Linked DNA regions of Homo sapiens. The protein of the gene in region 1 purifies or fractionates together with the protein of each later gene. This does not show direct contact. Each region holds a gene or a part of one and is shown in the gene's direction. Other genes may lie near its edges.

What was found. Proteins that work in one complex are often made in the same cells at the same time.
Region 2: the proteins of AFTPH (region 1) and HEATR5B purify together in Homo sapiens (affinity purification with western blotting; 2 studies listed by BioGRID, with this or other methods). This does not show direct contact.

Annotation. Positions count from the first base shown.
Region 1 is NC_000002.12:64,519,451-64,527,337, forward strand, and holds the start of AFTPH (aftiphilin), read left to right. Parts: upstream 1-4,877; 5' UTR 4,878-5,162; intron 5,163-6,062; exon of another isoform or gene 6,063-6,115; intron 6,116-7,887. UniProt on the Homo sapiens protein: Component of clathrin-coated vesicles.
Region 2 is NC_000002.12:37,053,373-37,060,404, reverse strand, and holds part of HEATR5B (HEAT repeat-containing protein 5B), read left to right. Parts: intron 1-1,417; coding exon 1,418-1,517; intron 1,518-1,844; coding exon 1,845-1,954; intron 1,955-2,924; coding exon 2,925-3,088; intron 3,089-3,789; coding exon 3,790-3,965; intron 3,966-6,797; coding exon 6,798-6,903; intron 6,904-7,032.

The DNA of each region.
Region 1 (7,887 bases):
ACAAACAAACAAACAAACAAAAAAAACAGAAATACATTAAATTTTTTTTTCTAGAACTACCCACGCCACTCATTCAATGGAATGTCATTTACTGAATAAATATGTATCGCCATCAACCATGTACCAGGCCACTTTCTTGAAGTTGGGAATATAGAAATGAATAAAGCAGACAGAAGTCTCTGCCTTCATGCAACTGTTAAAATTGCATGAAAACTATTTCTATTGTATTTCCCTGGATCCTATGACTACACAAATTTAAAGACAGATGTAGGTTTTAAACAAAGGTTCAGCATTGTACAATAGAAATATAATGTGAGCCACATTGTGATTTAAAATTTTCTAGTAGCTAGTTTTAAAAAGTAAAAAGAAACAGGTGAAATTAATTTTAATGTTTTACTTTATATATTTTTGTCATGACTCACTGCAAGGTTTCCACTTCTCTTCACCTTGAAATAAGGGACAAAAGTAGAAATAGAGTTATCACTTCCACAGTGCCCTGAGGCCAATCTCCTTCAAAATAAAGGAGACTTTTCTCCTGAGAGACAAGTTGCTCAGAAAGGTCATGTTTTCTCCAGGTGATCAGGCTGAATTTCACAACATAGCAGGTTGATAGTGGAACCATTATAGCACATAATGAGCCCTTCAAAGCTTTGCTCAGAGCCAAAAGAGAGGCTTGAAGACTAGAATAAAGAAGAAGGTTGGGCTGCAGCTCCCTTCAGGAGAACACTCCATCTATATTGCTCCATATGTGGTAAGCCCATGAGTGGGTACAGGTTCAGTCCTTGGGGCTGTGAAGTGCAAGATCAAGGTGCCAAGAGATTTGGTTGTTTGGTGCGTGCTGTTCTCTGCTTCCAAGATGGCACCTTGTTGTCAAATCCTCCAAAGGGGGTGGAACGCTGGTCCTCATGTAGCAAAAGAATATGTCTAGATAAATCTAGGAAATTAGTTTGAGGTCTTTGATTTAAATGTTACGTATTCAGGTCAATTACCACTACCAGAAGCCCATCCTTCAAAAGTTTTTCGTTGGAAAGTTCTATAAAATTTGTTAGAACTTTATATACAGAATTTGAGCCTTTAAAAAATTTGCTGAAAAAGTTTCAGCACCTTTAGAAATAATGTAGTCAAACAGCAGTTTCTTCCCTACCTCTCCAATTTTATGGATAAAATTAATACTGTCTTAACAGGTTAAGACATATTAAATATTGAAATATTCAATATTTTCCCTGATACATTGAATATGTCCATAAAGTTCTAGATATCCAGTACTCCAGGAAGTACTATAACACCAAATTGTAATTTTTATTATTTATGCAATAAATTTGATAAGCAAATCCAAGAAAGATCAGTGGGAATGATTAAGAAACAAAATCTCTGTTGCTCATCACACTTTGGGAAAGTCGCTCATTATTATTATTATTATTATTATTATTGAGAAGGGGTCTTGCTCTGTCAGCCAGGGTGGAGTGCAGTGGCGCAATCACAACTCACTGCATTCTTGACCTCATGGGCTCAGGTGATCCTCCTACCTCAGCCTCCCGAGTAGCTGGGACTACAGGAGCATGCCACCTCACCTGGCTAATTTTTTGTAAAGATGGAGTTTCACCATGTTACCCAGGCTGGTCTTGAACTCCTGGGCTCAAGTGATCTGCCCACCTCGGCCTCCCAAAGTGCTGGGATTACAGGCGTCACCCATCATGCCCAGCCTAATAACCTATTTTTATAGAACTGTATGAAGGACATATTTCAAGAGGTAGTGGTGACATAATACCTGTAATCCCAGCGTTTTGGGAAGCCAGGGTGGGTGAATTGCTTGAGCCCAAGAGTTTGAGACCAACCTGGGCAACATAGTGAGACCCCATCTCTACAAAAAATAAAAAAATTAGCTGAGCGTGATGACATGCACCTGCAGTCCCAGCTACTTCGGAGGCTGAGGTAGGAGGATCCCTTGAGCCCAGGAGGTTGAGTCTGCAGTGAGCCGTGATGGCACCACTGCACTCCAGCCTGCGCAATGGAGGGAGAACCTGTCTCAAAAAAATAAAAATATAAATAAATAAATAAATAAATAAAATTTTAAGTAAATGTTTAGATACAGAAAGGACCTTGGCGATTATCTGGTGCATATTTCTTAAGCTGTGGTTCAAAGACCCTCTTCTGTGAATGAGCTTTAGGATGAGAAATTTGAGTGTCTGTGGATACAAGCATTTTTCTATAGAAAGAGCCAAAGCTTTTACCGTATTCTTAAAGAGATACATGTGCCAAAACATTATTTGTCCTAAGAGGGTTGAGAACCTGTGATCTGACTGTATTCTCTCATTTGTTATATAAGGAGACTGAGGTCAAGAGAGGTTGAGTAACTTATACAAAATCATAGTGACAACAGAACTGGTCATAGACCCAGGTTCTACGCATATTGCTTTTCCAGAACACCAACACATTGCTGAGGTTTTGTTCTTGCTTGTCTGTTAATTTCTTACACAATATAAAATGAATTAAACTGTTTTCACTTTTTATTCTTTCCATCTTTTTTTCCCCTCTTAATTATCATTCACTGCTGGTTGGTAAGGAGGTGGTAAAATTAGTGCACTCATATATTGCTGGTGGCATTCTAAATTAGCAGTCTCTTGGAAAATAATATGAGATGATAAATTACCAATAAAACATTCATTGCCTTTTCGCTTAGTAACTTTTATACTGAGAAAAAAAATTCTAAAATTGAACAAAGCCACACACACAAAATGTTCATCTAAGTATTATTTTATAATACTGAAAACTATCCATATAGTGGTCATTCCATTGACTACTAAGCAGCCAATTAAAATTAAGGTTTTACATTAAACGATGGGTGGAAATGCTTACAACACAAAAGGGACACAAAATCTACTTAAATTATGATTACAAGTTTGTAAAAAGTACGCACAGGAAAAAAAAACTAGAAGTAAATACAACAAATGTTAACTGGTAATTTTTTTCTTCTTCTTTTCTTGATGCCAAATCTTAGGTAATGCAGTTATGGCCATAATTTTTAAAAGGTAAATAAAAACAATACTATCATTGACTCCAAATGAAATGGACTTTATATTTCCCACAGATTTATCACCTTAAAAACACTCAAATACTTTCCCTTTGTAATAAAATGTCATGAGCATTAGGGCACTGTCTTCGGAATTACATGTAAGATTACCAATTACAAGTTAGTTGGCCAAATAGGTACTCAATTTCCCTATTACAAAATTGTAAGCTGATGGGGGGTGTGCAATTTAATTTAATTTTTTTTTAGACAGGGTTTCACTCTGTCGCGCAGGCTGGAGTGCAGTTTAAATTCATTTAGTTTAAACATGTTCTTAGTGTAGGGTCTGCTTTAAGGTCTAGTCATATGTTCTTATTTTGATATTTCTGTTTAGTAGAGCTGTAAAATGAAAACAAGCATGTGTTCGTTTAAAATCAATTTCTAGTTTCTACACACACACAAATTCAAGCTTGCACACGAGCTAAACCAGCAGGGGGCGAAATACAATAGGCATAAATTTGACAAGCCATATAGATTTTTCTTACTTTAGTGACTGAGCAATAACACAAAATCCAGCATAACCACAAAGCAATTGATACTCCCATTTAAAGTGATGCAGTCTCCGTATATCTTACAGCGATTGAATAGTAAAGAGACAAATGCGGGTCCATTGGAGCGCTCCGAGTTAATTTGTCTAGAACATTGCAGAGGCGGGATAAATCGTGATGAACTGCTATTGTCCTTATCTTTCTCCTGATTTGTATAATTCCTCCACCCAAAGGGGTGGACACTTCTCTGTGCCTGAGGGGATGTTTTCCATTCTTGTTTCTTTGCGTAACTGCTGAGCTTTGCTGTTTTGGAACTATTTTAAATTATTCAAATTACTGATGCAGACGTTTGGCAAATATGGGCAGAATGAGGGGCCGGCGGGGGTCATGATTTGTAGGACCCCGGGCTCATCATCCGAGACAGTAATCATAATCCTGTAGCCTTGTAGTCTGATTGTTACACTGGCAGGTGTTCTAACAGATATTCATTGTAAAGGAGGAGGAAAGGTAATATTTTTATTACCTTTATATAAATAACAGTTGATTATATAAATAATCAACTGTTCAGGACTGATGATGGAAACAAAATCGGTTACGACCTCTGTTCCAGAAATGCGTTTGAATGCATAAGTTTATGGTGATCTCTTTAGCTTCACTAGATATTCTCCGTAAGGGTCTATGAAAAACGACCACCTTCTCCATCCATTAGCCAAATTCCGGACTACTATTTTCTTGTCGGTCTCGAAGACGATTTGTCAGTTTGGCGGCTGCTTTCCCACCTTAAATTCTATTTATCGCAACCTCTTGTTATTTGTTAAATATCAGCTTCTTCCTCTGTCGGCATAAATTTAAAAAGAGGAAGAGACAGGCTGTGAATGAAAAAGTCGTTTTTCGGGGCGAAAAGGGCAAGCTGACGAATGCTCTCTAGTAGGTTTTTGGTAAAAATGTGGTTCTATATTTCCAAACCTTTACAATTTTATTTGGAGAGCAAGAGACTTAATCCGGTCTTGAGCTGAACGTTAACCGGCTGAAAGGAGCACCTGTCCTTCGCCAGGAGCGCAGCCTCAACCGGCGCCTGAGTGCGGGAAGACGTCTATCCCCCTACAGCTCTATGACTCGCAAGGAAGTAAAAGGAAAGGGCAGCTTGCCCGCACCCAAAATGGCGGTCGGCGCTCTGCACGACAGCGCCTGCGCAGGGATAAGCGTTCTGTGACACCAATTCCCCTGGAGTGTCCTCCCCCACCCCACAGCACCCACCAGCGCCCGGTCCCGACCTAGCCACCTGCGCCCGGAAGTGACGTGTCGGCGGCAGCGGTTCCCCCGCTGCATGATGGGAGAGTGTGTGGAGTGGGCGGGGGGTCTCCGCGGAGGAGGTGGAGGAGGCGGCGGCGGCGGCGGAAGAGGGCGGAGGGTAGTGGGATGGGGGTCCCGCGGCAGCGGTGAAACTCCGGGTGGGCGTCCATGGTGCTGCTGCGCTGACAGGGCTGTGAGCAGCCGGCCTTCCGCTCTCACCAGTTCCGCGTCGGAATAGACGGTCCTTCCCCGGGGAGTCAGTTCCTCCCCGGGCCCCTGAGCCATGCCCATCGCAGCCGCCCCGAAGGAGCCAGGTAAGCGCCGCCGCTCCGCTCCCCTAGCTGCGCCGGGGAAAGAGGGTGCGGGGACCAGGCCCGGCCCAGCAGCCAGACCCTCACCCGGGCCGGGAGCATCTGCCCGCCGCGGAGCCGGGAGCTGTGAGGACGGAGCTGGCTCTGCGGGCCTGCGGGCTCCCGGCTCTGCTCTCTTCTGCGGCGAGTGCGGGAACGCCGCTGGTGGCGCCCGAAGCGCACGGCCCCCTCCTCGCCATCCCGGGCACCGGCCGGGTAAGTGGGAGTCCTTCCCTCCCCGGCCACCGCCGGCTCTCCCTGCCCCTTTGCTTCCACCTCCCAAAGCTCCGCGCTGGCTGCGTTCTCCAGGGAGCTGTTCAGAAGTTTGGGGCTTTGCTTGGGCTTCTTCGCTCTCCTTCCCCCTCCCTCGTGACAGGTGTAAACACTGCCTCCTTCACCGAGGCCCGAGGCTGGCCGCGACCTGAGTGTGCTGCTTCCAAGGGTCTCTGAAGCAAGCGAATTTGGAATCCTCCAACAGGCAGAGGGGACAGCCCCAAAGCTCACGCATCCCTTCCTCAGAGTACCTTTTCTGCTGTCTTCTTGCACTCTTCAAGAAATTATCTGCGTCTCCTCTCCAGTTTGCGTTTGAAAAGTTGGACCATATTCCTTAAGTGCCTGGTTTGGCAGGTGCTGCGTCTTGCTTGGGGCAGAGGCAGAGTATGGAGTGAGGGGTGGTAGGGTCCTTGCTCTATTAGGAAAGTAATGGGGATAGCAAGGTTTTTTTTTCCTTGTTGCTTTGTGCAAGTTATAGCTTGGTTATACTGAATCTTTTCTGTTGGGGCCGAGGGAAGAACTGACTCATACATGTAAATTTTTTACTGGGCGGGGGGATGAAACAAAAGTAATGGTTCCGTTTCAAAGTTCTCACTTTAGGAGAAGTAAAGTAGAACTTTGGTTTTCAACTTTTCCTACAGTGTAAGTCTTCCTTCCACCTCCTATTCCGAGGATTTTATTTGGTGGAGGGGAGACACAGAGTTTATCTTTGATGCTACACTTAATTGTTGCTTTCAGTTAACCTCTTAGACATTAAAATATATGCTAAACTCTAGGGACAACAAATGTTTCAACATTATTATGTTAATATAATTAACACAGTCACGTACATTTTATATGCTTTACCAGTTTAAATGTTGGCTTTTTTAGTAGTCATTTTTAACACTTCGCAGAGGTATATTTGTTTAAACAAAGTATCTGTGGTAGTCTCCTAAATTTTGTTCATAAAGATATTTCACATGGATTAAAAGACAGATCTTGTGTAAAACATCTAGCCCAGTAAATGGCACCTAGCAGATATTCATTAGCTCTAGTTGTTCCTCCGTGGATTAAATTAGATATATCAGTTGATCTTCAAAGTACACATATATTTTTAAATCTTCAAAAACCTCTGGAAAAAAATCCACTACAATTCACATAATATGTAGGGCATTTAAGTTTTAATGTTTGCTGATCTTTTGACCTAGAGACTGTTAAAAAATAATCCCGTATCACAACAAGGATAATATGTCCTTAATAGCCTTGATACATCTTGCCGAATCCAGTTTTCGTTATGAAAATTGTATAGTGTGGGTGAATCATATCATAAAACATCATTTTACATTTTCATTTGTTCTGCTTACATTTAGTGAAAAACTAGTTCAGAAATGTAGTGACATTTGAGTACCAAATAATGTTTTATTTTGTGTGAAATCTAAAGTGCTTTCCTCAGCAGGCAAAGTCTTTGAATAGCTTCTCATTAAGGGATTGCCCCTTCTCTCCCAACCCTTCCCCCAAATCTCATAAAAGGAGGCCGCTAAGTATTTAGATATTTTTTAATCATCATAAATTATTTAAATAAAATGTTTATATTCTAATTTAATGTTACCTACACTTTGTAGATTAAAAAATAAAGGTTTTTCCCTCTATTCTTAGCACTTTCAATTCCTTTTTAAGTAGAATAGTGAACCTTTCTAGCCGGAACTTTATAAGTATTTTTAGTTTTTACACTATTTTGAAAATCTGGCATTGTATGGATTTTACATATCTCATTTTGCTAATCATTTTCTCAGTTTGTGCATATATCAGATATAGTCACAAGTTCTTTTGCAGCTTTATATGATAATTGCTAACACATGAGCAGTATATATGTTGCTCATATATATTGCTTCCTATGAGCAAGATAGTTTTCTAAATGCTTTATATACAGTGTACTAACTCAATCCACACAACAACCTGTAAGGCAGTAAGTAGTAGTATCCCTCATTTTTCAGAGAGGAAACTGAGGCACACAGATACTAAGTAACTTGCCTTAGGTCAAACAGCTGTTAAGTGACAGATCCGTTTGCTAGACCATTTATATAGTCTCATGCAAAACTATACTATGTATTGTCTGTGATTTGTGCAATATGTAGCAAAAGTATAACAACATGCATGGGAATGATAAACACCAAGTCAGACTAAAAGTGACCTTTGGAGAACTTGAGAGGGATGAAGGATCTAGGAGGGGCCCATGGGTTTACAAACATATCTTTATATCCTTAAAAAAAATCCGAAGTTGACTTGTTAAGAGATTAAGATTTAACACACCTGGGTGATGGTTACTGGCTCATTCATTATGGCTTTTTTCTCCCTAAGGTTTGCATGAAGTTCTTCACAATGAAATTAAAAGTTTAAAGGCCGGGCATGGTGGCTCACACCTGTAATCCCAGCACTT
Region 2 (7,032 bases), about 27 Mb from region 1:
ATAAAAATGAAACCCAGACTCTGAAAAAGTGTTTAGACCTGGTGGTTAGACAGGAACTAGAACCCAGGCCTCTTATTCCCACTTGTTGCTATCTTACCTGTCAAAGAAGCACTGAGTCACCATGTATAAAAAAAAGAAAAAATACCCAACAGCTATTTAAAGAAAAAGAAACTCAGGATTACCAAAGTTATTGGCATTTGCAGTTAGTCTTTTCATAATGGAGAAACAGCTGTTTTTTCACATCCTTATCAAATCTCCAAACCTTCATATATTTTTCAGATATCAACATTACAAAAATAACGGATACAGTTGTTTTTGTCTGGGAGTTAACAGCTTACAGGAAACGCTCAGGTTTTGTTTCGTTTGATAACTAGAATGACATTGGATGTACCAGTTCTTTTTTGGTTTATCTCAGAGTGAAAACTACTTCTTTTTCCAAACTGGGAGAGAGATACATGTTTCACCACAAGGGCAGCCAGGCAAGGGGGCACCTTTACTCTCACACATCTAGGAGGTGTTTTAGTCTAGGCTCTATTGCTAAGGGGCCAATAAAAATATTTTTTTCTCACTGGACCATTTTTGTTTATATACATATATATTTACACAAATATATGTAAAAATTCAAAATGCAAAAATATATGTAGTGGCCGGGTGCTGTGGCTCATGCCTGTAATCCCAGCACTTTGGGAAGCCAAGGCGGGTGGATCACTCTCAGGAGTTCTAGACCAGCCTGACCAATATGGTGAAACCTTGTCTCTACTAAAGATACAAAAATTAGCCAGGCGTGCTGGTGCTTGCCTGTAGTCCCAGCTACTCAGGAGATTGAGTCAGGAGAATTGCTTGAACCTAGGACGTGGAGGTTGCAGTGAGCCGAGATTCCGCCACTGCACTCCAGCCTGGTTGACAGAGTGAGACTCTCTCAAAAAAAAAAAAAAAAAAATATATATATATATATATACACACACACACACACACACACACACACACACACACACACATATACATATATATCTGTAAAAGTTGCAAAAATATATTTAATATATGTAAAAATTTCATGTAAATTTTAAGGCATTGTTTATACACATAAATGTATATGTGTATAAACAATGCCTTAAAATTTCTTTCTTTGTAGTCATCTGAATTCCTATGGGATCATAGTCCTCTGAATTTCCACCCGAAGAATCTCTCTAACCAGTACCTTCTCTTCCTCCATTTTTCTATCCACCTTTTTTCTAGCCTTTTCCACGATTTTTCTTTGTAGTTGTTGCAAGTTTTTCTTTTGGTTCGACATGGTTTCAGAACCTTATACGTTATAATAATTAAGTATTACAACTGCCTTTATATTTATACAATTTTATAAATTAATTCATGTTCACAAAAGCTACTCCAAATCTGTCCTTTTAAACATTTTATCTAGCCATGAGGAGCTTCGTTGCACATTGTCCTGAGCTACTAACTGAAGATGTGATTCGAAAATTGATGACCCCTATTGAATGTGCCATGACTATGATGTCACAGTAAGTAAGCGATTGAGACAAGTTCACATCCTATTTTATATATTAATAATATACTTCTCAGCCATATTTTGTGCTTTCTTCTAGAATCATCTAGGAAACATAAAACTTTATTTTTGTAATATAACTTTAAAAATTACAGCAATGGTGTGGATTGAAATACAGTTGTATCTTAAAGTGTTTTTGTTACAGCAAAGATCACAACATAAGCTAAAATGAAAGTGTATACTTATCAGTGTAGTTTGGCAGTACATTGATACATTGCTAAAAAAATTTATAAGTAATACTTATTCTGGTAAGCCATTACCAACTATGTTTTTGATATTTTAGCATTCCATCTGTAATGAAAGCCCATGGAGCTCATCTGAAAGCTAGTGCTGCAATGGTCCGTTTAAGACTTTATGATATCTTGGCTTTGTTACCTCCAAAAACTTATGAAGGTAAATTAAAAATTTGTGGTATCTGATAAAAATTTTTCTTTACAATTCTTCACCGTATTATAGAGTCTTGACAAAGGCTCTCCCACTGACTTACTGTGCAAAGGAAGGCCACCATTTTATTTTTCTTCATGTAGAGTAGCTGATACTTGTTGACTCCTTACTGTGTTCTGGGTCTCGTTTTCAGCCTTTTGTATTAGCTTTTTGACTGTGTTGCAACTTATGAGGCCTTTAGCCCTATTTTATAGATGAAGAATCTCAGATTGAGAGACTTAAAGAAACTTAACTTACCCAAGACTTAGAGGTAGTTAAGTGGCAGAGCTTGGATTCAAATCTAGCTGGTTTATCTTCAAAGTGTGCACTTTTGATTAATACACTGAAATGCTTCCTATATACTGTAATATAGCAAATAATTCGAGGATCTGGAGGGAGAAATCAAATATTATGTAAAATATTAATAGTAAAATAAACTATTGATTTCTTTCCAGTATAATCATGCCAAAGAATTTTGGTGTGCTGTGGTTCATTGTACATTATTGGGCAATAAATAATAATAATCATATCACATTTAATATATTTAAAATAAAGTATCTTTGTTTGTGTGTGTCTTTCAGACAGGGTCTTGCTGTGTTGCAGAGGTTTGTCTCAATCTCTTGGGCTCAAGCAATCCTCCTGCCTCAGCCTGCTGAGTAGCTGGGACTACAAGCATGCTATGGCACCCGCCTCTCTTTCCTCTATTTGAGTTTTTTGGTTATTTTAAATAATTTGGGCTAAAAGACACAATACAATATATGAAAGGAAGTACCATTATTGTATATTAAAACCAGCATTTAAATATAGATTTTTTTTAAAGAAGAGAACAGAGACTTAATTATTTTATTCCTGTTGAACATGTTGCAGCTCTTTGTGGGCAATGATTATAATTTTCACAAAAATTATTCTTTTTAATCTGATCTGAAGTTCTGTTTTTTAGGATCTTTTAATGCACTTCTTAGAGAACTGGTAGCGGAATTCACTTTGACTGACAACTCAGCCAACACAACTACTTCCCTCCTCAGATCCCTCTGCCATTATGATGATAGTGTTCTTCTTGGTTCTTGGCTTCAGGAAACTGATCATAAATCAATTGAAGACCAGGTAATAAACATAGAGGAAAATGAAATACTAACTTAATCTGAAACAATGGTCCTATTACACATTGTCACTTAAAAAGAAAATAGTGTATAGAAAGGTTTAATCCCCATTTAGTGTTCTTAGACACTTAAAGATGGCATCCTGGTGGTAGATAGTGAAAAAAGTTAAACAGGAAGAGTGAGAATTTGGCAAATTGTCTTTATTTAATATTCTGTGTATTTAGATACCTTGTGGTGGCTGTGATAAAGATCAGTTTTAACTGGCTTTTTGGTTATTGGTATTTTGTTTTGTTTTAGTTTGTTTTGTTTTGTGACAGGTTGGAGAGGAATGAGTTAGTAGGTTGAAGATTTAGAACTTTTGCCCACTGAATACATTATTTCTTATGTACTTTTTAAAGAGTGATTAAAGCCCCATTTAAAATAATTGTGGGATTAAGATCTTGTGTATATTGTTCACGCAATAAGGTGGGTGGTGTAAATATGTTTTCGAATGAATAAAGCTTTTCTTAAAATTTGTATAAGGTGTTACTGATGATTTTTTAATGACCAAATTACATTTTGGTCTGTTTTCAAATGTTCGGATCCAATCATTCTTTTTTTGTTGCCTTTTCTCCTTTCTCCTCTGCTGTAATCCTCATTCCCAATGTTTAATAAGTAGATTTCCTAAAGTAGATTTTGAATAATTTTTATTTCACTCTTTTGCAGCTCCAGCCAAACAGTGCCTCTGGAAGTGGGGCTCTGGAGCATGATCCTTCCTCTATTTATTTACGCATACCTGCTGGAGAAGCAGTACCTGGTCCCCTCCCTCTCGGAGTCTCAGTCATTGATGCTTCTGTGGCCCTTTTTGGTGTAGTGTTTCCTCATGTTTCTTATAAACACCGGTTAGTATAAAGTCAATCAGGTAATTTTTGTTAAATATATATTATGTTAAACGAAAAGTAGATTTTCTCATCCCAGTTAACTCTGCAATAAAGTGAGTTATTATAATACTTAAAACAGTACTCTTACAGATTTACTAATGTAAGTGACAGATACATGATAAAAAAATTGCATGCAAATTGCACATAATTTGAGACTTTATGTAAGATTTGACCCTGTGTACTAGCATCTGATATCTGTTGTATTGTGGACTGTATTTTATAACAAAATTTTCATTATATATGCTAGAATGACAACTGTTGGCAAAAAAAAAAATGCATTATAATAGTTTGTTTGATAGTTCATACATAGGTTTTGACTATATCTTAAATTAAGGACATCAGTTTGCTAAGCCTGTTGACTTTGTTGTTGAGGAAGTAAATGGATGAAAATTCCAATCACTAATAACGTTTGTGAGATGGTTCAAGTCTAGAACTTGGAAACTAACATAATTGGTTCTTTTTGTAATAGAAGCATTTTGGTTTGGTATATTCTGTATCCACAGACACTATTCCTAGCTTTAGTAGGCAGTTTGTATATTGTGATTTTCCCAAAAGGAAAACAGAAATGAATTAATACAAGACCATCACAGATAACTTAAAAGCTTTACAAAATTAAAATGCCTTAAAAGTATTGTTGGGTCTGGTGTGGTGGCTTATGTCTGCAATCCCAGCGCTTTGGGAGGCTAAGGCAAGAGAATTGCTTGAGGCAAGGAGTTTCAGACCAGCCTGGGAAACATAGTGAGACACTCATCTCTACAAAAATTACAAAATAAAAAATGTCTTTAATATGTAGGTTGCTTGATTAATTGCTTTTTAATTTGAGGAGAAAAAAGTTTAAATATGAAACTTTACCCAAATATCTTTAAGAACATTTGGTTGCCACATAAATGTTAAATGATGTTAAAGGTGGAAGAATCTTATAAAGCATCTATTTCAACATTTTGGTTTTAAATCTTAAGGACATCCATATCTAAGAGTTTGGTTTACCCAAGGTTATACAACTAGTTATGAAAGCTATAACTGAAATCCAGGATTATCTCAATTCTGTATGATCACTTTTACAGAATAAGATGAAGTATAAATAAATAAATTCTATTAAAAATATAAACATATAATAAATAACATAAATATTCAACAGTAGGAGGATAAGTGAATAAATAATAGAAAGTCCATTTTTGTAGAGACAGTGTTTTGATAGAAGATGCTCATGATACAATGTTAAATTAAAAAGGTAAAAAGCAAGAAGTGATCCTACTTTGGTTTTCAACCAGCAGGCTGTGCGGCTTAATATATTTACTGCTGTTCTTAGTGCACAAAAGGTACTTACTTACTTTTAAGAATTTTTTAAAGTACATCAAAATGTGCATGTATACACGTACATCTGAATCTGTATCTTCATATGAGTTTTGAATAATGCTTTGACCTGAGACCTGAGACCTGTAGACTAGTATAAATTGAGCTTTAAATCCTTACAGCGACCTCAGGGAGATTTTATTACCAACTTGAGGTCATAATTGTCTTAGTACTAAATCCAACTTCCTTGGATTCCTTTGTTTCACATCATTTCTTTTTAGAAGAATGCTCTCTCACTCTCTTTTTATCAAAATCTTCTGAAATGGGCCGGGCGTTGTGGCTCACACCTGTTATCCCAGCACTTCGGGAGGCAAAGGTGGGCAGATCACCTGAGGTCAGGAGTTTGAGACCAGCCTGGCCAACATGGTAAAATCCTTCTCTACTAAAAATACAAAATTAGCTGGGTGTAGTGGCGAACACCTGTAGTCCCAGCTACTCGGGAGGCTGAGGCAGGAGAATCATATGAACCCAGGAGGCAGAGGTTGCAGGGAGGCAAGATTGCACCATTGCACTCCAGCCTGGGCAACAAGAGCGAAACTCAGTCTCAAAAAAAAAAAAAAAAAAAAATGCAGAGCACAGTGGCTCACGCCTGTAATCCCAGCACTTTGGGAGGCCGAGGTGGGCAGATCACCTGAGGTCGGGAGTTCGAGACCAGCCTGACCAACATGGAGAAACCCAGTCTCTACTAAAAATACAAAATTAGCCAGGCGTGGTGGCGCATGCTACTCGGGAGGCTGAGGCAGGAGAATCACTTGAACCTGGGAGGTGGAGATTGTGGTGAGCCGAGATCGCGCCATTGCACTCCAGCCTGGGCAACAAGAGCGAAACTCCATCTCAAAAAAAAAAAAAAAAAAACAGAGAAATCATCTAAGATGGCCATGGATTTTTTTTTTTTAATAAACTGATTCTTTTTTATTAATATAAAAAACAATTCACTTCTGGTTTTTTACATTTAAAAAAATTAGCCAAAGCTAAATCTTTTTTGAACTTTCCCAAAAGCTTCTGAGGCTAGGACATGAGGTACTATTCTAAGAGTATTTTTAAAATAGGAAAAAGAATTATACTACATTTAAAATTTTCTAACTTAAAAATCTTCCACGGAGATACATAATTAATGATTGTTATCTTTGCAAGAAACCTTGAGCGTCTACTAGATGCCAGGCGCTTTGTTGGACAGTGCTGTTAATGTTGAAGACCACTGCAATTGTGACCTTATTTTGTTAATTGAAACTCTTTTCTTGTTCCATTTAATAACCGCATGTCCATATAATATTTTGGGAGAAGGAGATCTGGTTTGGACTAGCTGTGGGAATGAAATAGAAAAGAGATAGCATGGGGAATTATTTGCTAAACAATTAACTTGTACTCTTCTTATCCGTTTTTGAGCCATATTGGAATAAAATTTGTCACTAATGTGATTTTTTTTTCTTATTGTTATAGATTACAAATGTTGGATCACTTTGCTGAATGTGTTAAACAAGCTAAAGGTGTCCGCCAGCAGGCTGTGCAGCTTAACATATTTACTGCTGTTCTTAGTGCACTAAAGGTATTTACTTTTAATACATACTATTCTGAAATAAGTTTTTAATTAATGCATTTAATAAGCCAGACATAGCAAGATTATTATAATGTTTATATGTAAATCACTTGGTAACTGTGCCTTTACGTTAGCTTA